Linked DNA regions of Homo sapiens. The protein of the gene in region 6 purifies or fractionates together with the protein of the main gene of each other region. This does not show direct contact. Each region holds a gene or a part of one and is shown on either strand. Other genes may lie near its edges. The genes, in order: ABL2, STIP1, LUZP1, PRRC2C, TTC1, BAG2 and RPAP1.

What was found.
Region 1: the proteins of BAG2 (region 6) and ABL2 purify together in Homo sapiens (co-immunoprecipitation; 2 studies listed by BioGRID and IntAct, with this or other methods). This does not show direct contact.
Region 2: the proteins of BAG2 (region 6) and STIP1 purify together in Homo sapiens (affinity purification with mass spectrometry; 3 studies listed by BioGRID and IntAct, with this or other methods). This does not show direct contact.
Region 3: the proteins of BAG2 (region 6) and LUZP1 purify together in Homo sapiens (affinity purification with mass spectrometry; 3 studies listed by BioGRID and IntAct, with this or other methods). This does not show direct contact.
Region 4: the proteins of BAG2 (region 6) and PRRC2C purify together in Homo sapiens (affinity purification with mass spectrometry; 2 studies listed by BioGRID and IntAct, with this or other methods). This does not show direct contact.
Region 5: the proteins of BAG2 (region 6) and TTC1 purify together in Homo sapiens (affinity purification with mass spectrometry; 2 studies listed by BioGRID and IntAct, with this or other methods). This does not show direct contact.
Region 7: the proteins of BAG2 (region 6) and RPAP1 purify together in Homo sapiens (affinity purification with mass spectrometry; 2 studies listed by BioGRID and IntAct, with this or other methods). This does not show direct contact.

Annotation. Positions count from the first base shown.
Region 1 is NC_000001.11:179,100,678-179,104,177, reverse strand, and holds part of ABL2 (tyrosine-protein kinase ABL2), read left to right. Parts: 3' UTR 1-3,500. UniProt on the Homo sapiens protein: Non-receptor tyrosine-protein kinase that plays an ABL1-overlapping role in key processes linked to cell growth and survival such as cytoskeleton remodeling in response to extracellular stimuli, cell motility and adhesion and receptor endocytosis.
Region 2 is NC_000011.10:64,196,171-64,199,670, reverse strand, and holds part of STIP1 (stress-induced-phosphoprotein 1), read right to left. Parts: intron 2,401-3,500; coding exon 2,274-2,400; intron 2,179-2,273; coding exon 2,076-2,178; intron 1,818-2,075; coding exon 1,697-1,817; intron 1-1,696. UniProt on the Homo sapiens protein: Acts as a co-chaperone for HSP90AA1. Mediates the association of the molecular chaperones HSPA8/HSC70 and HSP90.
Region 3 is NC_000001.11:23,092,357-23,095,856, forward strand, and holds part of LUZP1 (leucine zipper protein 1), read right to left. Parts: intron 2,025-3,500; 5' UTR 1,906-2,024; coding exon 1-1,905.
Region 4 is NC_000001.11:171,537,530-171,541,029, reverse strand, and holds part of PRRC2C (protein PRRC2C), read right to left. Parts: intron 1,060-3,500; coding exon 1-1,059. UniProt on the Homo sapiens protein: Required for efficient formation of stress granules.
Region 5 is NC_000005.10:160,033,139-160,036,638, forward strand, and holds part of TTC1 (tetratricopeptide repeat protein 1), read left to right. Parts: intron 1-2,001; coding exon 2,002-2,062; intron 2,063-3,500.
Region 6 is NC_000006.12:57,175,326-57,178,825, reverse strand, and holds part of BAG2 (BAG family molecular chaperone regulator 2), read right to left. Parts: intron 1-3,500. UniProt on the Homo sapiens protein: Co-chaperone for HSP70 and HSC70 chaperone proteins. Acts as a nucleotide-exchange factor (NEF) promoting the release of ADP from the HSP70 and HSC70 proteins thereby triggering client/substrate protein release.
Region 7 is NC_000015.10:41,520,258-41,523,757, forward strand, and holds part of RPAP1 (RNA polymerase II-associated protein 1), read right to left. Parts: intron 3,098-3,500; coding exon 2,988-3,097; intron 2,704-2,987; coding exon 2,508-2,703; intron 1,994-2,507; coding exon 1,841-1,993; intron 1,624-1,840; coding exon 1,481-1,623; intron 891-1,480; coding exon 134-890; intron 1-133. UniProt on the Homo sapiens protein: Forms an interface between the RNA polymerase II enzyme and chaperone/scaffolding protein, suggesting that it is required to connect RNA polymerase II to regulators of protein complex formation.

The DNA.
Region 1 (3,500 bases), on a different chromosome or scaffold from region 6:
TAAGATACTTAGCTCAAGTGCCTGGCACACAATGAGCACACTCTATAAATGTTCTACTACTACTATTATTAACACCTAGTCTAGGGATGCACAGCAGAATCCCCTAGGGTTAAAAAACAAAACAAAACAAACAAAAAAAACTGACGGAATAGCCCCACTCCAGATCAGAATTCCCAGTGGGCTGGGGTCTCGGCCAGTGTATTCTCCAGTAATCTCGCCAGGTGTTTGAAACACCCAGTGCTATCTGAAAACTATCAGTACCCCAACCCTTTGGTTTATAGATTAAGAAACTAGCAGAAGATGGTTAAATTACTTGCCTATTGTCTCAGAACGGTTAATTAGTGGCGGAGCCAAGGCTAGAATTCAAGTCTCTTGACTTTATGGTTGTGGGGTCTTTCCACCATACCTGCTGCCATGTGAGACACTGCAAAAAAGTGGCTCAGACCGACAATCAGCCTGTGTGGTGCTGCACACTTTCTAAAGCACATGCTCCTGACACTTTGACCTTAAGGGGCTTGAATGTGGAGTAATGGGAACACAAGCCAAGCAAGCACTCAGTAGAATTCAGTCATTTAAAAAATTCAATGGGGTCATTCTTTTGGACAGACCTCAGCAACACAGCAATGTGCACTTTGTAGTAAAGAAATACCAACTTGAGTTTTTAAAAAACCTAGTTAGTCCTACATTCCCTTTTCTTTAAAAAAACTTTATTGTTCACATTATTTTAATGACTATGAGATAATGTATATGACAGCACTTTGAGAAAATATCAACTGTAATATAACTATAAGGTTGTAGTATTGTCTGTTTAAAAGATAAGACAGTTGATTCAATGTGGATGGACCCTGTGGGGTACCTGAAAATGTAGATACGTAAGAATCACCTCTGTCATTTATCACATTTAGAAATATGAAACTGCTTAACAGGTATGAGCAGGTATAGCAAGTGTTTGCTAAAGTTGTAGTTCAGAGCTGAATTACTTCAGGAAACTAGGGACCAACTTTTTGGTTTAATTCCGATCTTTAAAAAGTAAGAATGTGTACTCACTCCAGAACACAGAAGCTCTTCCAAGGACCTTGACTCAAGAAGGATGAGGTCCTCTTACTCTTCTCCATTTATCCACTATATGCTTGGCCATTTATCCTAAATGTGGTGGGAACAGACTTGTTATCTGTTGATGTTGACAGTGTCTTTTTTAACCTATGTCCTGCATAGTTTTGTTAGGTTTACAGGGGGAGGTGGATGGCCATAAAACCAGTGCACTTTGGGAATTACTTTTCTAGGATTTCCTACCAGTTATAAATGACATTGACATTTGTCATCTTTTTTTTCTTTTTCTAAAAAGAATAGCTGAATTTAATTCACCTATTATAAAATACTCAAAAGTAAATTGCCTTGGTGGCCACTTCTGAATTATAGCTACATTTCATTATGACCCCTTCTGCTCCCTTCCATTTTGCTACTGATGTCATTCTTGTTATCAGGCTGTGCCCCTACCAGGAGTTCATATTGGGTTGACAGGGTTATCTATATTTTTGTTCTTGATTTTTGAGTTTCATCATCTTGCATTAAATTGTTCCACCTGGATTTGGGGTTCATCTCTGTGCCCTAAGGATCTGCTATGACCAATCCTCTTTTTGTAGGTGGGTCTCTGGCTTAAGTATTGATAGGCTTCAGCGGTTTGTGTCTCTGTCTTAGCTTGTATCAAGCCAGTAGTAGCTCACTTCCTTTGTAAATTCCTGCTTCAGTCTGGGATCCGTAGGAGTATGTGAGAACTTCTGAAACGTCTCCAACTCTTAACAGTCAAGATATCTATATCATTTGGATAGAGTTCTGGTTTTCCAACTACTAGACTTAAAGAAATTCTGGCCGGGTGCGGTGGCTCACGCCTGTAATCCCAGCACTTTGGGGGGCTGAGGCGGGTGGATCACGAGGTCAGGAGATTGAGACCATCCTGGCTAACACGGTGAAACCCCACCTCTACTAAAAATACAAAAACTTAGCTGGGCGTGGTGGCGGGCGCCTGTAGTCCCAGCTACTGGGGAGGCTGAGGCAGGAGAATGGCGTGAACCCAGGAGGCGGAGCTTGCAGTGAGCCCAGATCGCGCCACTGCACTCCAGCCTGGGTGACAGTGAGACTCCGTCTCAAAAAAAAAAAAAAAAAAAAAAAAAAAAAAAAAAAGAAATTCTAATGCAAAGCTTGCTTTTTTTTTCTTTTTTCCAGCAAGCCAGTAGTAATAGTTATTGTTACTTGCTCTGTTCAGCACAACTGTAGTTCACTTGAACTTCACTGTCATTCCCTACGCTCCTCTCTTACTGAGAAGCATGGGTGGGATTCAGGGCTGTGGGACAAGCTACAGCCTACTCTGGAGCACTCACCCCCATGACTCAGTCCAGCCTGTCTCTTGGGAAGTTTATTGCAATGTGCAGACGGATGAATTTCTGCTTTTCATGCCACCTCTCTGAGGTATGTATTCTATCTTGAGTATGTACAAGATGATACCTTTTGGCTGGGCACAGTGGCTCGTGCCTGTAATCCCAGCACTTTGGGAGACCAAGATGGGCGGATCACTTGAGGTCAGGAGTTTGAGACCAGCCTGGCCAACATGGTGAAACCCCGTCTCTACTAAAAATATAAAAATTAGCCGGGCGTAGTACATGCCTGTAATCCCAGCTACTCCCGAGGCTGAGGCAGAATTGCTTGAACCCAGGAGGCGGAGGTTGCAGTGAGCTGAGATCGCGCCGCTGCACTCCAGCCTAAGTGACAGAGTGAGACACGTTAAGAAGAAAAAAAAAAAAAAGGATACCTTCATTTCTGACTCAATATCCTAGATCCAAAGGACAGGAAATTAGGGAAGGCTTCACCCTGTGGGATCAAGATAAGAAGATCCCATACTTCTTCCCAGGTAAGGAGGCCTGTGGCAGGTCATGATTCAAAGCTGACTTGGAATGGCAGAAACTGCTGAGAGGCCACCCTTGGAGATTTGTGCCTTCAAAGATGGGTTTCATGAGTCTCAGAGAGGAAAAGACTTGTCAGCTGGGTTGATTTTGCATGATTATTGAACTAGAGCTGGTAGACACGAGCTTCTCAGATGGCAGTGGCCAGATCCTCCATCTGTGAGAATCCGCCACTTGAAGTGGTTTCCTGAGAGTGTTCACTTGGCAGTTGCTGCGTTTCTCAAGCCCACCTGGCGAGGTCTCGCCGGACCCTTCCCTCCAAGTGCACTTACTTCTTCATCCCCATGTACATCTCTAACTTTGAAATTGTTTACCTCTCCTACAAAAATCTTACCTTTTGACCTGAGCAGAGTAGCAAAGCCCTGTTCACTCTGAGGGAGCAGCTGGCGTGTTGAAGGGGAAAGGCCAGGCACAGCACTGTCCTCAGACCACACCATATTTGGAGCAGAATTGTGATACATGTCATCTGTGTCTATTCTGGAAGGTTCTTTGTTCATCACTGTACTCGCATCAGCAAATTTTCAGGGTCCTACCTGTCACTCC
Region 2 (3,500 bases), on a different chromosome or scaffold from region 6:
AATGGCGTGAACCCGGGAGGCGGAAGCTTGCAGTGAGCCGAGATCGCGCCACTGCACTCCAGCCTGGGTGACAGAGCGAGACTCCATCTCAAAAAAAAAAAAAATCAGATTAGGATTTTAATTTTCAGAGTATTGCTGGCAAGATTTTTTTCTTTTTTTTTTTTGAGATAGAGTCTCGCTCTGTCGCCCAGGCTGGAGTGCAGTGGCGCGATCTCGGCTCACTGCAAGCTCTGCCTCCCGGGTTCAACGCCATTCTCCTGCCTCAGCCTCCCGAGTAGCTGGGACTGCAGGCGCCCACCACCATACCAGGCTAATTTTTTTTATTTATTTAGTAGAGACAGAGTTTCACCGTGTTAGCCAGGATGGTCTCGATCTCCTGACCTCTTGATCCGCCCACCTCGGCCTCCCAAAGTGCTGGGATCGCAGGCGTGAGCCACTGCGACTGGCTATTGCTGGCAAGATTTTTTTTTTTGAGATGGAGTCTCACTCTCACCCAGGCTGGAGTGCAGTGGCATGATCTCGGCTCACTGCAACCTCCGCCCCACTGAGTTCAAGCGATTCTCCTGCCTCATCCTCCTGAGTAATTGGGATTACAGGCGCCTGCCACTGCGCCCAGCTAATTTTTTCGTATTTTTAGTAGAGACGGGGTTTCACCATCCTGGCCAGGCTGGTCTTGAACTCCTGACCTTGTGATCCACCCACCTCAGCCTCCCAAAGTGCTGGGATTACAGGCGTGAGCCACTGCACCCGGCTATTGCTGGCAAGATTTTAAAAGAAATTTACAGTCTTTATAAAATAGTCAAAATGTTATGTTACAAGAACTATTAACATTCTCAATGCACAGGCCCTCAATATTAACACATTTAGGGTTGAAATCTTGGCCAATACCAAAAACTGCAAAAAAAAAAAAAAAAAAACCACAAAAAAAAACACCAGATCACTTCCTACATGTTGTCACTGTTAAATGACAGAGAAAGAATCATGTAAGATGACCAAAGCCACTACCTAAAAAAAGATCAGGTTCAGCCAGGCATAGTGGCTTACGCCTATAATTCCAGCACTTTGGGAGGCTGAGGAGGGCGGATCACTTGAGTTCAGGAGTTCAAGACCAACCTGGGCAACACAGTGAGACCCCTTCTCTACAAATAAAAAAATTAGCTGGACGTGGCCAGGCGCAGTGGCCTGTAATCCCAGGACTTTGGGAGGTTGAGGTGGGTGGATCATGAGGTCAGGAGTTTGAGACCAGCCTGGTCCATATAATGAAACCCCATCTCTACTAAAAATACAAAAATTAGCCGGGCATAGTGGCGTGCACCTGTAGTCTTAGCAATTCGGGAGGCTGAGGCAGGAGAATTGCTTGAACCTGGGAGGCGGAGGTTGCAGTGAGCAGACACCATGCCACTGCACTCCAGCCTGGGTGACAAACAGACTCCATCTCAAAAAAAAAATTAGCTGGACGTGGTGGCACGTGCCTGTAATCCTAGCTACTCAGGCTGAGGTGGGAAGATCACTGAAGCCCAGGAGGTTGAGGCTGCAGTGAGCCACGATTGTGCCACTGTCTTTCAGCCTGGGTGAAAGAGTGAGACCCTATCTCAAAAAAAAAAAAAAGTCAAGTTCATTATTAAATAAAACAGTAAGAAACAATGGCTCAATTATTAGGAAAACAAGAAAATACCCCTATTCTTTTCCTACGCACCTGCTGGCATTTCTTGAGCACATCTGGGGTTCGGTGCTCTGCCAGAGACTTGTTATAGAAATGGATGGCATCCTTGTACTTTTCTTCTTTGAAGTAGGAGTTGCCAATTCGAGCATATGCTCTGATAAAGAAAGAGGGACAAGGACTGCTTAGGACAGAGAGATAAAGTCAGCTCCTGCAGAAAAACACACCTGCAGCTAGAAAGGCCCGCATCACTGCCTTCAACACCTTTTGTCTTGTCTCTGGTGACCTTCTTGCCAGCCCTTTCTTAACACAGCAGATTCTATGGCCAGCAGCCCTCCTCCCCATGCAGAGAAACTTAAGTCTTGGACAGCAAACCCTCCGCGCTACTCAAGGTATTCTGGAAGGTTGAGCCTACTTGGCAATCTGTCGATAGTCTTCTCGGTTTTCTCTCCCCACTTCAATGGCCTTCTCACAAAGCTCCCGGCACTTATTGTAGTCGCCCTTTTCAAAGTATACCGCTGCCAGGCAGGATGGTTAAGAAGGAACAGTCAGTCTTTGCTTCCTCCCTCAGAGACACCCAACAATTCCCTTGCCCCTTGTTTCTGGGCCTCACCTGCTTGATTGGTAATGTAAGTCATGTTAGTGGGGTCCAGCTCCTTGGCTTTGTCGTAATGCTTCAAGGCTGTGTCAAAGTCTTTCTTCTTGTAGGCATCGTTCCCCAGCTCTTTTTCTTTCAGTGCCTAGATGAGGTTTAGAAGTGAGTGCTGAGCAAATCTAACTCAGGTGACAAAGCAAGAATCTATGATCTGTCACAAGTTCTGAAATGCAACTAACATGAATAGAATTCTATCAAGTTCTCCTGAAGGCCTCTTCATCAGTCAGCTATAGACAATAAAGTATCAGCCGTTAGAATGAAAACTAACTTCATCTTTGCTTGCTCTGAAACTCCCCCTTTTCCACCTACTCTCCTAGATCTTTGTCAGGAAGCAGAGCGCTTCTTTAGGGGAGAGGAAATCCCTTCGACTTGAAGCAACCGGTGAGGACAGCAGAGTTTTGGACCAGGCTTTATTCTGAGGCTGCAGCAGATCTGGTGTCAGTCTTGTGGTTGCCTCAGGGTCTTAGTTGTCAGGGAACCATAGCAGAGGGGGTGGTGAGAGGATGAGAAGCGGCTGAGTGGCACGAGTCTTCAGCAAAGCTCACTACCGCCCACACTGGAGGGCCTTTTTCCAGCTGAGACACCCTAAACAACCAACGCTTACCCATTTCAAGGTGCTAAATTTGGCAACAATCTGCTGTTCCAGTTTACAAGGAGGGAAATGAAATCGTTGAGGCACATGCCTTCTGCTCTAAAAGAGTGCTGCTTAGCGGACACTCCCAACCACACACCATGTCCAGCCAGGAAGCAAAGGCCTAGGGATTGATGTGGACAACATTCTTCGGATCACGACAAGGACGTGAATTACTCTCAACTTTCCAGTCTTGCTAGGACCAACATTCACACTGGCAGCAATGAAGCCGCTGTGGTGACCACGGGAAGGGCAACTCCCGCAGCTCACTCTTTGCTACACATTACTCCTAGGAATGCTCTTGTGAAGCTTTTTTTTTTTTTTTTTTTGAGATGGAGTCTCGCTCTGTCACCCAGCCTGGAGTGTAGTGATGAGCTCTCAGCTTATTGCAACCTCTGCCTCCCGAGTTCAAGCGATTCTTCTGCCTCAGCCTCCCGAGTAGCTGGGACTACAGGCGCCCACCATGACACCTGGCTAATTTTTGTGTTTTTAGTGAAGATGAGGTTTCACCATGTTGGCCAGACTGGTCTTGAACTCCTGACCTCAGGTGATCT
Region 3 (3,500 bases), on a different chromosome or scaffold from region 6:
CATCACAACTGCTGCAGGTTGATTAACCCCTTCTTTATGTGAGGTTGAAAATCCCTGAAGGATGTTCTCTTGGCTTCTACAGCTATAAGGATACTTCGATAGAACAGGAGCCTTGGAATTCGGGCAACTGTTATCAGCCTCAAGGCCATTGGCAGCCTTTTTGCCTTTAGAGAGCCCTTCTGAGGAGGATCTTCGAGATGAGGCCAGGGCTCCAATGGCCTTAGAACAGCCAGAGTTTGCAGCCTGAGTTACTTGACTTCCGTTGCCAAGCACGTGTCCCCTCTTGCCAAAGACAGTCTCAGAGGAGGTGTCAGAAGCCTTGTCAGCTCTACCCAATGGGTCACTGGGAACAGATCCATGGGTGGTGTCACTAAACGTTCGTGTTGTCTTCTCCACTTTTCCCTTCAGTCCGCTCTCGGTGCCTGGCTTGGAAGTCCCCTTCCACGCTTTACTGTGCTCCTGAGCAGCCGGGGGGTAGCGACTCAGCACTGAGGGCTGCTCCCTAGACTTCTTCCCTTCGCTCTGGGAGGAGCCGGGTACAAACCGGTCTTCAGTTTTCTTTGTCTCCTGAGTCCCACTGTCTGTACTCACCCCCATGTGAGAAGCTTTTGCTGCCCTCCTGTTGGTGAAACTGGGAGAAGAAACCTGCCTGTTGCTCAGAGAATAGTTTTCATTGTTGAGAGCAAACTCCCTGTTCCGGAGTCGTTCCCGCTTATGCTGAGGAGACAGTTCCCGCGCTGTGTGCTTGGACACAGAAGCTTCACTTCCGTGGCCTCTAAACTTAGTCCTCTCATGTCTGCCTTTGCTGGACAGGAAAGCATCTTCCCCTTCTACCTCTCCATTTTCTAACTCTTTCTGTTTCTTGATTTGTAGCTTTATCTCCTCCAGTTGGCTGGCTAATAATTTGTTTTTATTTTGTTCACTTAGGTAATTATCCTGAAGGTCGTTATTTTTGGACTTCATTTTCTTAAGCTCTTCTTCCAACGATTCAAAGTGTTTGATTTGTGTCTTAAGTTTCTCAATCTCTTGGTTAAGGTCTTTGACTTTGTTGTCTTCCTGATTGCGGTTCTTTTCATTTTCTGATTTGTTTCTTGTTTCATTCTCTACCTGCTTTAGGTAGTCCAGACCACCCTTCCTTCTTGATTCTTTGGACGGCAGTGTGGAAGAGATGCCATCCTCAATCCGTAGGTCATTTCTTTCCAGATTAGAAGCATTCCTTGTATAATCTCGGTTCATTTTTTTGTTCTGCTCTAGTTTTTGAGTGAGTTCTTTTATCAATTTCTCATTTTCTTTCTCCTTTTCATTCAAGTATTTTCTCTCACTTACAAAGCTCAGAGTTAATGATTTCAGCTTTTCTAACTCTGACGCTAAACTCTGCTCAGTTTTATCCAGGCGGTCCTCAGAAGATTCTAGTTCTTTCACTTTGACTCTGAGCATTTCCAGCTCAGAGGAGATTTTCTTGGTCAGATTTCTCTCCTCATTCAGGCTCAGACACAGCTGGGTACAGTCATTCTTACTCCTGCTGAAGGCCTCTTCTAGCTTCTCTAATTCAGCCATTCGTTTCTGAAGCCGCTCAATCTCAGATTTCAGCTCCCGGGTGAGGTTTTCTTCCTCTTCAAGTTTCTCCTTCATCAGACGACACAGATCCTCTGCTCTCTTAATTTCCTCGTCTTTGCCTTCAATTCTCAGCACCCGCTGGCGCAGCACTTCAATCTCCGCCAACATGCTGGAGTTGCTACCTTCTGCCTGAATCACCTTGTCCTGGAGATCCAGGAGTTCATCCTCTGCTTTCTGGAGGTTTTTTGTGGCTTCCTCCAACTCATCAAGGCGGCGGCTTAGACTCTGTAGCTTAAACCGCAAGTGGCGGCTGGAGGCCGTCTCCTTGTAGCTTGTAAATTCGGCCATGTCTACTGCCAGCCAATGTGGGCTCCTAGAGGCATCCAATTCCACTCAAGGGGATGAGAAATGGTTACCTTTCTCTTGGCAACCACAATCTTCTTTGACAGCTGGAGACCATCATCAATCTACAAAAGGAAAGTAGAAAGCATGTCAGTCAGCAAATGTAAAACCTGCACGTTAGCTCCCAGTTATAGAAAAGTGCTCCTATCTGTTCCTGGTGCCTGGATCATAGCAGGGGCTCAAACCTGTTGAATGAATGACTTGAATAAACCTGCAAGAAAACACTGGTTCTTTATGGCCGATATTGAGTTGATACCTCATTTCGCCCTAATAAAGAATGTCACCAGTGGCAGCATGGCAAAAAGACATATAAGAAGCCTCAATTTTCATGGCAGGGTATAATAACATCATTACCATCTGCAACCTGCATAATCTCAGGAGAGTCATTAACAATGGAAACTAAGTCTCAGTTTTACTTAGTGGTAAAATGGGCATAATGATGTCTACCGTATTTCTCCCCAGTGTTGTTCTGAGATAATATGTGGAAGATCTTGGTAACAAAGCAATAAACAATCCTAAGATTTTTTTTTTTAAAGATTATCTCTTATGAGCTATTGTGACTTAAAAGTGATACAAATTAACCCTCTGCCTTGCTATAAATGGTGAGCTTCACAATATACTAAAACAATCTCTCTACACCCATTTTCAACATCTCTTCTCCCAAAAGTATATTTGTAAGTGGAATTCAGGTGTGAGTTGGCCCGACCCAGCCAACAGGCAGCTTCTACAAAACATATCCTTTTGCACTGTAAAAGAAATGCCCCAGATGTTAAGGTTGGTATGAAGACTGGTTTGTTTCTTTGAAAGCCATTTCACTGGGGATATATACCAAACATATAATAATACCCCAAGGAAATAGAGAAAGGGGAAGGTTTAGTTTTTTTATGTAATTTTCTCATTTTTAAAACAGGAGAATGGATTGATAAATGTATTTTAAACAGCTTTCATGAACAATAAGTCCTACGAAATTAAAAGGCAAACAACAGACTTCCATTTCCACCACTACAGCAAACCAGATAACCTGGAAAACCTCTAATACTATAAAACAGCTAAAAATACTGAATAAAATGTAACAATCACTTAAAATGTATAGTTGATCACATAGAAAGTAAGTGACATTCCAGCTAAAACCAGAGGAAAAGAAAACTAAATGAAAAATAATAGTAAGTTTAAACTACCACTGAGCTGTCCTTCTTAGGGTCTTGCCGATCTCCAGAACCAAGGAGTTTGGGTTCTAACAATCATGCAGGTATAAGAGGCAAGAGTTTGGGCTCAATAGAGGTGGTAAGTTGAAAATGAGACTCCAGTCCCCAATCTAAAGCAAGGATTATTGAAGAACTACAGCTCCAGGATAACTAGTGAAAAAAGTCACCTCCCTGATATAGGGAGATAAGAGGACCCGGGCTCTATTAGGGGTTAAAGGAGGATTATCCCTAGAGAATTTATAATCTTAGACCTGCTCTCACTTGAATTCAGAGTTCAAATTTATACCATCTGAGTGGTCTAGAACCTATCTGTCCTGAGAAACTAACATAAAATGG
Region 4 (3,500 bases), on a different chromosome or scaffold from region 6:
CTGTATCCTTGATCTGGAAACCAATCTCTCTCTCTAGCTTCTTTCCAATAGGTCCTGGGAGGCAAAGTTGATTCTTTTTTAACTGCTGGTCTTGAATCTGGTCGAGGCCTCTCTATAACAAGGTCTTTGCTGATGACTTTCTCAGGTTGTTTTTCTTCTTTGACTACTGGTGCTGCCATAGTCTGTTGGTTTACAGTCTTAACTGCAGGCTCTACCTGAACAGTACTCACAGGTTCCAGAGGCTTCTCAGTATCCTGAGATGGTTTTTGAGCCAAAGTTGCAGTTTCTGTTGAAGGAAATTTCTCTGCTTCTGGTTGAATTGGTGGTGGAACTGACTGTGGCTGAATTGGTGCTGGTGGCTGAGGTGGTGGTGGGGGAGGAGGAAGATCCTTCTTTTCCGTCTTTTCAGGCTTTACAACTACTTTTTCAGTGACCTTTTCGGCCTTTTCTCCTTCTTTCTCCTTCCTCTGTTCCCGTTCCTCTTTCATATCTCTAAGTACAGGTTTTTTAATGGGACCTGATCTTCTCACAGGTCTATCATTAACTTCTTCCCTTCTGTTAGAGCTTGGTCGTGGGCCCCAACGAGTTTCTGATTTAGATTTATATACTTTTTCAGGTTTTGGTCCTTCAGAAGATCGTATAAAGCCTTCCTTTTTTGGTTTCTCCTCTGGCCTTTCTATTGGTTCTTTTGAATCAATGCATCTGCTGGTTACTTTAGGAATGCCTGCAGATGGTTCACTTCTCTGCTCGTCTGGTTTTTGCGTATGGTTAGATCCATGGGAAACACTTCTTTTCCGGGAAGGCTGACTTTCTACAGCTGAAATCCGCTCCTCTTGAGGAGCGGATAAGGTCTTTTGATCAGGTGCTTCAAAACAAGCAGACTGATTATTTGCATCAGTATGGTGAGGTCTAACATCTTCCACAGATCTGCTTAAAAACTTTTGTACTTGTGCCTCACTTGATTCTCTGATAAAGTCTGCCTTTGGGTGAGCCTCTAATTGATTATGTTCTACAGAATAAGCAGCAGTAATCTGTTCCTGGTCCAACGCAGCTTCAGACCTATGATGATAAGAATTCAAAGGTATAATCAACAAAGCAATCTTTCCCATGCGTAAGTATATAGCAAAATAATCCCTCTAAAACAGAAAGCAATGACTCTTAACCATAATGAGAATCTTTCTCTCGCTATATAAAAAGTTTAGAGGAGAATTACTCACAATAGCCAAGAGGTGGAAACAGCCTAAATATCCAATAGCTGAATGGATAAAGAAAATGTGGTATACACATACAATAGAATATTATTCAGGGATAAAAAAGAAGGAAATAGTGTCATATGCTACAACATGGATAAACCCTGAGGACATTATGCTTAAGTGAAGTCAGTCAGTCAGGACAAATATCTTACATGAGGAACATGAAATAATCAACTTCATCAAAGCAGAAACCATAATGGTGGCTGCCAGGGGCTAGGAGTAGGGGGAAATAGGAAATATAGGTATAGGTATAATATAGGAAATATAGGTAAAGGTAAATATAGGAAATATAGGTAAAGGTAAGAATAGGAAATAGGTATAAAGTTTCAGTCATGCAAGATAAAAAAAAGTTCTGGAGATTTGCTGTATAACACTGCTTACAGTTAACTACATGGTACCATATGATTAAATTTTTGTTAAGAGGATATATCTAATGTTCTAAGTGGTTTCTGCCACAATTAAAAATAAATAGGGCCGGGTGCGGTGGCTCACGCCTGTAATCCCAATCCTCACTTTGGGAGGCCGAGGAGGGCGGATCACCTGAGGTCGGGAGTTCGAGACCAGCCTGACCAACATGGAGAAACCCCGTCTCTACTAAAAATACAGAATCAGCTGGGCGTGGTGGCACATGCCTGTAATCCCAGCTACTAGGGAGGCTGAGGCAGGAGAATCGCTTGAACCCGGGAGGCGGAGGTTGCGGTGAGCTGAGATGGCACCATTGCACTCCAGCCTGGGCAACAAGAGCAAAACTCCATTAAAAAAAAAAAAATGGGCCTGAAGCGGTGGCTCATGCCTGTAATCCTTGCACTCTGGGAGGCAGGAGGATCACTAGGGCCCCAGGAGTTTGAGACCAGCCAGGGCAACATGAAAAAACCCTGTCTGTACAAAAAATACAAAAATTAGCCGGGTATGGTACTGCATGCCTGTAGTCCAACTACTCAGGAGGCTGAGGTGAGAGGATCACTTGAGCCTGGGAGGTCAAGGCTGCAGTGAGCTGTGATTGCATCACTGCACTCCAGCCTGGCTGACAGAGCGAGACCCTTCTCAAAAAATAAAAATAAAAAATAGAAATAAATAAATGAAGTTTATTCCTTAAGGAAAAACAAAGTTAAGACCATGCTGATGTGAATTTCTAATCCATCAAGACCAGTAATTTCCACCTAGAATGAAAGAGTACACTTGAGTAAGCTTATCTGTCCCAGTTAATTACAAATAATTATAAAACATTATAAAACATTACCAAAAAAATATAGCCCATAAAAGGGCAGGAAGTTCCAACTGTATGGCTATAAATTATTACAGTCATCACCAATTGTGCGCCATTTCAAAGTTAACTTTGTATTATTGTATTTCTCCTTATCTTGGCCTTAAAAATGTTCCCTAAAATACTGTTAAAAAGAAACATCTCACTAATGGAAAAATTACATCTAGCTATATTATATAAGCATTGTAGATACACCTAAATTTCTTCACACCTACTCTACAATAAAGACATCCCAAGTGGCTGCACACGATGGCTCACGTCTATAATCCCAGCACTTTGGGAGGTAAGGCAGTCAGACTGCTTGAGCCCAAGAGTTCAAGACCAGCCTGGGCAACACGGCAAAACCCCATCTCTATAAAAAATACAAAGATTATCACAAGGTCAGGAGATCGAGACCATCCTGGCTAACACGGTGAAACCCCGTCTCTACTAAAAATACAAAAATTTAGCTGGGCGTGGTGGCGGGTGCCTGTAGTCCCAGCTACTCAGGAGGCTGAGGCAGAAGAATGGTGTGAACCCGGGAGGCAGAGCTTGCAGTGAGCTGAGATCGCGCCACTGCACTCCAGCCTGGGAGACAGAGCAAGACTCTGTCTCAAAAACAAAAACAAAAACAAAAACAAAACAAAAAACCCCACAAAGATTAGCGGGGTGTGGTGGTGAACGCATGTAGTCTCAGCCACTCAGGAAGCTGAGGTAAGCCGATCACTTGAGCCTGGGAGGTGAACGCTGCAGTGAGCCAAGATCATACCAACGCACTCCAGCCTGAATAACAGAGCAAGTTCCTATCTCAAAAAAGAACCTACCAATTTCAACATCTAATACTAAATTACAGCATACAATTGAGTACAGAACCAGGTTACAAAATGCCCTAATGAATACAGAGAATATGTCCAAAGAGTAAGCGTAGCATGCTAAATTAAATAGAAGGAAACCAGATTTATGCTTCAGTCCTAAATTGGAATGATCTTCAGAAACACTACACA
Region 5 (3,500 bases), on a different chromosome or scaffold from region 6:
TGCATCCAGTAACCCTAATCAATACAGTAGAGATCATTACAATCTAAGCATCTTTCTTATGGGTAGTACTAGGTAAATATGGCCATATTCTTATATTTTATTTTTTTCTGAATTCCTTTAGAATAGCCCTTCCCTCAGATACGTTATATCTTAAAATGAATTGTTATTTGTACCTGCTGTGTGTCTGGCACATAGTATGTACCATAAAAATTAGATTCACTCTATACTTACCTTTTAGTTTCCTCACTGAGATTCATCAAGTGCTCTGTTTAATCCATAGTGTAATAATAAGACATTTGGGAAATACCCGGTCTCATCAATAGCATATTGACAAATCTTTTCCAGAGAAAGAATGTTTTTATTTTGGTTCCTGTATTAATCCATTTTCACACTGCTATTAAGAATTGCCTGAGAGTGGGTGATTTATAAACAAAAGAGGTTGAATTGACTCACAGTTCCACATGGCTATAGAGGCCTCAGGAAACTTAACAATCATGGCGGAAAGTGAAGAGAAAGCTGATGGTTTTAAAGTGTGGCACTTGAAAACCATCAGTTCTCATGAAAGTGAACTCACTATCATGAGAACAACATGGGGGAACCGTCCCCATGATCCAGGGTCCGTCCCTTGACCCGTGGGGATATTTGGGTAGGAACACAGATCATATCAGTTCCTCATGTTAAAAGGACCAATTGTTTAGGTTCCAGGCTTCTCTTGTGCATGAAATACCCTGCTAACTGTATTTCCTCCCTTTGAAATTACTTAATCAGAATGCTAACTGTATTTCCTCCCTTTGAAATTACTTAATCAGAAGCTTCAAGAAGGAGGAAAGAGCCCAGCACAGTGGTGTGCACCTATAGTCCCATCTACTCAGGAGGCTGAGGCAGAAGGATCACTTGAGTCCAAGAGTTCAAGGTTATAGTGTGTGTTGATCACATCTGTGAATAGACACTGCACTCTAGCCTGGACAACATAGTGAGACCCTATCTCTTTTTTTTTTTTTTTTTTTTTAAGGGACTTTGGTAGATTTTCTGTTTTTGGGGTTTTTTTGTTGTTTTTGTTTTAAAGCACTGTCAAAAGGTGGCAGGCATACAGACTCTTCTGGTTTGGCTTGTGCCAGTTATATTGTTAAGATGTTCCACAAAAAAGTGCACACACTCAGCATGCGTCTACTTTGCTTTGCAGGATAACATTCTCTCAGCCTTTGTGTTTGATGAGTTTTTGGCCATCTATGTGAGTTTCTGAGTTGTTTGAATAAGCTAAGAAAAGACAGACTTATTTATTTAGGTTTCTTCACATTTTCCTATGTTAACCTGCTAACAGTATACTGCCCTAACCCTACAGACTTGGCTTGTACCCACAAATGTGCTCTCCTAGCATACTGTGTCTCCTTCATGACACAAACCATGAAGGGTTCTTATAAGGATTAAAGTACTTATTTCACAGAAAATAATAGCTTATTTATTGAGCCCTTATTTGCTAGTCACTGTATGGGCAGCTTTATGTATATTATGACATTAATCCATTAAACAGTAGTCCATAATACTATTAAAGCTTCATTTTTGAAATGAAGAAACTAAGGCTCAGAAAGATTCTGAAACTTGTCCGAGGCCACATAACTAGTAAGTACTAGAAGCTACAATTTGAATTTACACTGGTATGCACACCAGTGGGTATGTTATTTAGTTTCATTTCTGAGTAAGTAGAAATTAAGTGATACTGTAATTATCATTCCATTGCAAAAGATAGAAACATAGAAAGCAAAGGACATGCCAAGAAGACCTACATTTTTTGTTTTAAACATCAAGAATGCAATTGATAATTAGCCTGATGGTCATGTGTTTTTTTTCCTCTATCACTGTACAAGGTTTTGGTGAAACTGATGCAGTTCTCAAAAGTCAGACTGTTGCCTATTAAATAGACTTGTGCATAAGGAAAGCTCACCTTTTTGTTCACTTATAATAATATTGTGAGAAATTATGTAATTCTCTGATGTCTTTCAGAAAAGAAGAGAAGAGAGCACTAGACTAAAGGAGGAGGGAAATGAACAGTTTAAGAAAGGAGGTAAGACGACTTTCAGCACTGATAATCTGGTCATCTTGACTCCTCATCCTGTTGTAGAGTCTGTGAAGAAACCCCAAAGAACATCTGAAGAAACCCCAAAACCAGACTTCACAATACAGTGTTGCTTCCCAGTACCTTGGCATTTTGAGTTTTTAACCAGGCCAAATTATTCATCTGATGGTGACCAGTTACCATTTGTCTCTTGGCACATGCATAGTCTTTCTGTAATCCACTATCTGTTAGTCTAGAATCAGGGGTAAAACTCTTGAGCTCTTGCTTTGGAAAACACTAACCTGGAATATTAAAGGTTATGTGCTGCATTGCTGTGAAAGCAGAGTCGCCGCTCCTCACTTGCTGTGGGGCTGTGAAAGCAGCCTGACTGCTCTGGTATGGCCTAGGGCTGCCTGTCCTTTGGTTGCTCTTTCTTTCTTTCTTTCTTTTTTTAAATTCTCCAAACTGCTTCAGAAAGGTTGCTCTTTCATGTGCCATTTTCTTTGGATGCCTTAAGTAGGGAGATTCTTCATGTCCTTCTGCATTTTCTACATTTGCTTAGAAATAAGTTGGTGGGGTTCATTCTGATAATTTGGGGTAACTATTTGATCTTAGAGCAAAAGTCTTCTGTCACATCTTAAAGTGTATATGCTTCAGAAATCTAGGAGTGTTAACATTTTCCGCTAGTTATTTTCAGGTTTTTAATTTTTTTCTTATTGTTTTCCAAAAGTTACCCTATTACCTGATTTCAGATTTTAGGGTTTTTTTTTTTTTCCTATATCTTGGTTTAGTAATCATTAATACTGTTTTCTAATAGAATAAACACTTCTAATTTTGGAAGCATATTTTTTGTATGTTAATATTAAATATTTCAAACCTGAGAAAGGAGTACATAGGCAATTTTCTATTAGTATCCTGACCATAATTCTCTTTTTCACCATTTTCTCTTTTAAGGTCTTGATTTAAATATTGATTTTTACATTGTTCCTTTTAGCTCTATCAAATGTCTCTCTTCAAACATTTCACGGATGCTGTTTTAGCCAGGTTGACTGTATGAAAGCACAACAGATTTAATGAAAACAAATATGTATAATTTTTTTCTTTATCTCAGGCCATGGATCCCAGAGTTTAGTCTCTTTCCTCTGTCCAGTTCTGTAACCTCCTTTGAAAACTCCTTTCTGAATTGCCCAGCCAAATGAAAACTGAACATTGAGGGAATGCCAGGACTCCTGAGTATTGAGGGCTTGTCACTGACAGCATGTTCAGCTGTCAGTTCACCAAGCACAGCCTGTGAGATTGGCACAAGCAAGCACTGTTCCTTTAAAGAGAGAAGAAAAGAAGAAATGATTTTTACTGCGCCAGACTTAATAGACTGTTACCATCTTTTAACTCAAAACCTTCATCCTATGAATGGAAAACAGTGCTTCTGAGATCCTGTGGAATATAG
Region 6 (3,500 bases):
AACTGCTAAAGTTTGTGTTTTAGGGACCCTCCCCCACCCCCATCCCACAAGGCTTTTTTTAATACATAATAGAAATTACCAGGGCATTATCCCTGTGAAAACCAGATTTCATCATTTATAGAACTTCTTATATACATTTTTATGTATACCTTTTTCATTTCATGCAAGGGTAAAATGTCATTCTTCAAAATGTAAAGATCTCAGGGTTTATTTGGCAACATGGGCTTTTCATGTCCTATTCCCTCTTCAGGTAGCATTCTTTCTCCCTGACCCTTGTCTACTGGGATCACCTTTTTCAAAACCCAATTGCTTCAGCAGGAATTGTTTCCTTAGCTTCCCCCTTCCTCTCCCTTAAGGCAATTCATGCTCCTTTTGGCCCTGGTACATCCATTTACTCTACAGTCTAAAATATGTCTACCTCATATTTTACATTTTTTCTTTTAAAAAGCTGAACCTAGATCTCTACTTAGTTTAAGTAACGTTTGTACTGTTTGTCAGCTATTGCTATCCTTAAACTCATATACACGTCTTTTGTCTACAATTTTTCCATTAGTTCTAGAAAATTCTTGGCTGTTGTATCTTTGAATATTCCCTGTCTCCCCTTCTGTTATTTTCGTCTGGAACTCTGGTTAGAGAAATGTTGGACCATCTCACTTTATCCTTCATGTTTCTTAATATCTCATCTGGCAACACTTCTGGCGGAGAAGGGCAGTTCTGTTTTTACTAACAGATCCCGGAAGCAGCTACACGTCCAAATTGGGAAAGAACTTTTCCTCACATCAAGGCTGGCCTGGGCTGTGCTCCTGGAAAACTCCCTGCATGAAATCACAACTAAGTAGGCTTTGACAAAAAGAAATTTTAGTCAGAGTACTCAGTAGGAAGACAAAACCGGAGCGCATGCATCCTCAGCTAGTACCCAGGTCTTGGGCACCTCACAAACCTCTGCAGTCTCAGTATCGAAACGGCAAACTGCTGGGAGACTTAGGAGGAGTACAACAGCAATTTTGCGCAAACTGTGGCTACTATTAATATGTCAGCTAATAGAGTATGCAGTGAAAACTGCGCCAGCACTGCCACTACTAGCTGTGCAAATGGGTCAGTCGCCTATGAAACAGGGATGATAAGGGAACAGTGCTTGTGACTAAATGAAGTAAAGCAGGTAGAGTTTAACAGTGACTGATAGCACTGACTAAAAAAATTACACACACACACAAGTTAATATGTATAATGTGTCTAGAATTGGCACTGGCATATATTTATAGTATTAATAGCTATTATATTCTTACCATTATGAATGTGGGCTTATTTATTAATGATGAAAATTTGTGCTTTCATAAAAAGGAGGGAAAATGGCAAATGCTCATACCATGATTTGAAAGAAATAATTTCTAAAACAGGTTTGTTTTTTTTGAGATGGAGTCTCACTCTGTCGTCCAGGCCGGAGTGCAGTGGTGTGATCTCAGCTCACTGCAACCTCCACCTCCAGGGTTCAAGTGATTCTCCTGCCTCAGCCTCCCGAGTGGCTAGGACTACAGACATGCGCCACCACGTCTGGCTAACTTTTGAATTTTTTATTAGAGATGGTTTTCACCATGTTGGACAGGCTGGTCTCAAACTCCTGACCTCAGGTGATCTGCCCACCTCAGCCTCCCAAAGTGCTGGGATTACAGGAGTGAGCCACCACGCCTGGCCTAAAACAGGTTCTTAAAACTCATAGTTCTGTCTCTTATTCCATACTCCTATATCAAAAGAATGCTATAATGATCACTTTTAGGCAATGTAAAATTCTGAAGTGTTTTCCTAATCACCAAAATGTTAAATTACATTTACTGTCAAGACATTTTGGTGTAAAAGAAGGGACTAGTGTTTTTAGTGTGAAGAGCCACTTTTCAGTAGCATGTCCTCAGGCAAGCCACTTCATCCTAATTGGACCTCACTTCCCTCATTTCTAGGAGAGAGAGTATGTGCCCTCCACCTAACTCGAAGGGTTCTTAAAGTTTCAAATAACATATATGAAGTGTTCTTTTAAATTACAGGCTGTCACACAGTATTAACTATGATGCCATCTTGTTTTGTGACTCCTAGAACACTGGCACACCCTAACATGAAACTTTAAGCCAGACGAATGATCCCTATCACCCCCAACCCCATCCCTTCACTACCTGGGTGCAGGTTAAGCCACAGTGAAAGGCTGACAGGAAGGCAGAAGGAGCCACTGTGTTATAAGTTTTGGGAAACATATGAAAAGCCAATCTCCCAGTCCTATCATTTTCCCCTCTGCCAGTCTCCAAAACCCATCCCCCAAACATCTTCATTACCATCTTGAGCTTTCTAGGAGCTACCCAATACCTAACACATAGTGGGTGTTCAATATCCACTGAATTAAAGGCCAATTTAGATTGAATTTTTATCTCTTAGAGGAAGCTCATCTATTCATCCATATATCATTTCTATATTTTGAAATGTGATATATTTAAGAAAATTCAGGCATAAAGTATTAGAGCCTGGAGAGCCAGTCTTCCTGGGTTCAAATTTGGAGTTTACTACTCTCTAGTTGTGTGACTTTGGACAAGTCATTTAAGCTTCTAAGCCTCAATTTCCCTATCTGTAGAATGGTGATAATAGTAACAACGACATGGGGCCTGGCACATAGTCCGTGTACATTAAATGAATAAACATTAGCCTGTGTTTTAGAAAAAACTCTCACACTGTGTTTTTCCTCTGCTCTCACACTGTAACAACACAGAAGGCTGTGACCAAATATGTGGGGGATTTGCAGCTAAGTATCCCCCAACTCAGTTCCAACACTCCCTACACCTGGAGACGGTATCAGATCCCACAAGTTGAAAGCTCAGTCCCCAAGACCCCACCCTCCACCGTTGCAAGTCTAGGCCTCCAGAACTTCTGACCAACTGGCTTCAAATTGGGGTTCCCATGTCCCCCTCTTTGGGTTTAACTTGCTGCAGCAGCTCACAAAATTCAGGGAAACACTTACTTATATTTACGGATTTATTATAAAGGGTATTACAAAGGACATGGATAAAGAGATGTGTAGGGTGAGGTACAGGGGGAAGGGGCACACCACCTTCCAGGAGCCTCCACATGTCCAGCTATCCAGAAGCTCTCCAAACCCTGTCCTTTTTGGGTTCTTATGGAGGCTTGCTTCTTTTATATAAGCATGAATGACAACCATGTAGAAAAGTGATTGGACAAAAAGAGTATGCCCTCACTCTAACAGACTGAATGGGGAAACCCAGCAAGGCCAGTCTATTCAGATTCTTCTTGGCCTCTGGGTGCTAAATGCCCTCCTCCAGGGCATAGGGCAGGACCCTCTCTGGAACGAGAGTCTTTTGACCCACAATCAGACTAGAGGTAAGGCAGGTGAAAGAAGGTCAGAGAGAGAGATTCTTTTTCCTGAGGCCTAAAGCACCCCAACATTATAACGTAAGACTGTAATAAGGGTTATGGGAGTTATGAGCCAGGAACTATAACATAAGACT
Region 7 (3,500 bases), on a different chromosome or scaffold from region 6:
CTCTTAATCCCCTCAAAGCCCCCAAGAGGTAAGATGAGGAAGCTGAGGTCTTCCAAAGCTCCTCAAGGCTCAGGACTGCCCCCGAGGCCCAGTGCAGGGTACCCTTGCAGGTCCTGCTGGGCTGAGAAAGTACCTGGGTCAGAGGCAGGCTCAGAGCTCGCAAGGCTCCCACGTGTTCCCCAAAGAGGGCAAGGCGCAAGGTGACACTGAACCGACGCTGCAGGGGCAGGAGGACCAGGGCCCCAAAGAGGTGGTCCCCAAAAGAGACAGCCTCAAAATGATCCAGGAAGTTGGCATAGAGGTCAGGGAAAGACGTCAGGCCAGGGAGTCGGCAGTCCAGGTTGAGGTTTGGCAAGACTTGAGGCTGACAGAGCTGGGCGAGGAGGGCTGCCACCAGATGCTGTACTGGGGACTCCCGGAACAGCTCACTGTCCACCAGGAACACACACATGAGCCGTGCCAGGCGGGCAGCAGGGGGCACAGCCCAGAGAGCCTGGGGGCGCCAGCTCTCCAAAACTAGCACCCACTGCAGGACCCGCATGGCTGTGCCCATGGTGTCTGTGGGAGAGAGTCCCGAGGGGGTGTCTGAAGCCCGGTGGTAGAGGCGAATCAGTGGCAGGAAGGGCCAGTCGGTGGGCAGCAGCGGCTCCGTAGGCATGGGCAGTAGCAGGGTTGGGACTCGCTGTAGCTCCCCTCGGTGCAGAGCCTGGGAGGCCAGCAGACTGGCTCGGGCTGGCGAGCAATGAGTCAGGTAGCAGTTGCGGATGCTGGGGAGGTCCTGGCAGGCCTGAGCCAGCAGAGTCCCTTGCCCACACCGAGGGACCCTGCTGCTTCCTAACGACAGCTGGTCAGAGAAGTCGGCTGCCTCTGGACCCCCTGATGTTCTTTCCCTGTAATGGGACCCAAAAGCCAAAAATGAGGGCTGGAACCACAGCACTTGGAGGCTGTGCCAGCTCTTTGGAACTTCCTGGAGGCTCCTAGGTCCAGACCTGTGCCTCTCTGCTCCCTTAACTACTTCCCGCGCAGTGCTGTGTAGCAGTTAAGAGGATGCACACTACAGCCAGCTGCCTAGGCATGAGTTTACATAACTTCTCTGGGCCTCAGTTTCCTCAGAGTAAAATAAGGATAATAATAGTATCTATCTCATGGTCCAAGTAAAATACTTAAAATGTAGATAAATACATAAGGGAGTATCAAACACAGAGTAAACACTCAGTAGCGGATGGCTATTACATGTGTGTAACTGATTTAGATACCATTTTTTTAGCCATGCAGTCACACTGAAGTCTCACAATCATTCTTGGGTGTGGTTAGCCTGATCCTCACTTCACTAATGAGGTAATGGAAGCTCGGAAGAGTTAAGTGTCGTCGGTGGAAGAAAGAGAATTTAGGTCTCCTGGCTCCAAATTCAGGGCTGCTCTGTTAACAACTGCAGCAGCGTCCAAAAGGGCTGAGTTGATGCCACCAACCAAGCACTTACGGGAGGAACTCCAGCCGGAATACACAGCTCAGCAGCAGCTCATGGGTGAGGTACTCACTTCCGGGCAGCAGCCGGCTCAGCAGGGCCAAGGCCATACCATGATAGAGGGCAGCATGGGTGGCTGGCAGTGGCTGCAGCGCTGCCTGCAGACAGAAAAGCAGGGAACTACCTAGTACAGGAGAAGGGGACGTGGCAGAGAGAAGTGAGGAAGAGGATAAAAGTGAGGCTGAAGGGCAGAGGTCCAGGGCATGTCTGGAGGAAAGTGGGAGCTGCATGGCCTGGCAGAAGCAGGCTGGGTTCCACAGAAACAGGAAGGAGATAATGGGATGACAGGAGAACCTGTCAGACAGGGGGACCTACCGCTTTCTGGGCCAGAGCGAGTGCCAGGTACTGCAGGTGGTACTCATGGCGCAGGGCCCATGCAGAGAAAGGTGTGAGGTGTGGGGCAGCCCCAGGAGCCACACACTGGAGGAAGTAATTCTGGAGTCCCGGGGCAGCCAATATGGCAGCCAGCTGAGGAAAAGCAATTTTGTTCAGATCTAGAAATTGACTCTCATGCCTTCTAGGGCTCCCCAGGTGGCTGCCCCTCTCCAGACTCAGGGAAATGAGTGCCAGCAGAAGGCCTCCCTTCCCCATGGGACACCCTCCCACTTTCTTTTTGGTTTTTTTTGAGATGGAGTTTCGCTCTTGTTGCCCAGGCTGCAGTGCAATGGTGTGATCTCAGCTCACCGCAGCCTCCGCCTCCCGGGTTCAAGTGATTCTCCTGCCTCAGCCTCCCGAGTAGCTGGGATTACAGGCATGTGCCATCATGCCTGGCTAATTTTGTATTTTTAGTAGAGATGGGGTTTCTCCATGTTGGCCAGGCTGGTCTCGAACTCCCGACCTCAGGTGATCTGCCCACCTCGGCCTCCCAAACTGCTGGGATTACAGGCGTGAGCCACCGCGCCCATCCCACCCTCCCACTTTCTTTCTGATTCCTGCCATCTTGGCCCCTTGCCTGGCCCCTAATCAGGCACCCCACACTTACCTGGCCACACAGCCCCTTGTGGATCTGGGCCAGGGTATTAAGAAGAGAGAGGAGGGCAGTGAGGAATGGGAAGGGTGAGGCTGAGCCAGCCAGACTGAGACGGGGGCAGCCTCCCGAGCAGCCCAGTGACACGAGGCTGGGGGGAGCTTCAAGGGCTGGCACACAGGACAGCGGGTTGCAGAGAAGGGAGCAGTGCCTGTAGGTGAAGTGGAGAGTCTGAGGGGGACTCTGGCCTGGCGTGTGCCAAGCTGGAAAGAGCTTCTGGGTCTGTACCTAAGACTAACGGGGGGCCTGGCTGTGGAGGTCAGTGCTGCTCACACTCCTCAGAGCCCACCCCACTGCTGCCTGCTAGGGACTCGGGTTTCCCTCGGGCCGAGGGCCTGCACCCTGGGATGGACCTGGGAGCTGGACCCAGGAATCCCACAAGGAAAGAAATTGCCTCCTCCCCTGCTTCCCCCAGCTACCAAACACAGTACATACCTAAGGGAATCCCACAGGCTGCCCAGTGTGGGCTGACTCAGCAGTGGCAGCAGCAGCTCCTCTGACAGGCGCTGCATGTCCTGGAGCCAATCCTCCGGGCATGAGCTTGGCTGGTGGACCAAGGAATTCACTGAGCTGATGGCCCAGCCATTCATTCTCCTAGACCCTGTGTACCCAGGCCAATGCCACCATCCCAACAGCCCAAAAGAGCACATTTGGAGGCTTCTGCAGGCTGAGCCTTCTGAAGGGAGAGAAGGCCCCGATGTGTAGGGGGCATAAAGAGGGAGCACACAGGCTACAGGAAGGCTGAGCTGCTGCGTGGGCTCTCTGGTCCCCACCAACATGGCTCCTGGGAAGCTCCACGGGGATATGGAGGTAGAAAGAGGAGGAAGGGTAGGAATTAAAAGGGAAGATAGTAAATGGGGAAGTAGGAGTGGAGAGATGGACACAGAGAGGGAGCAACGGGTGGAATGTAGCTGAAGGCAGGGTGCGGGGGCCTGGTGGACAGCCGGC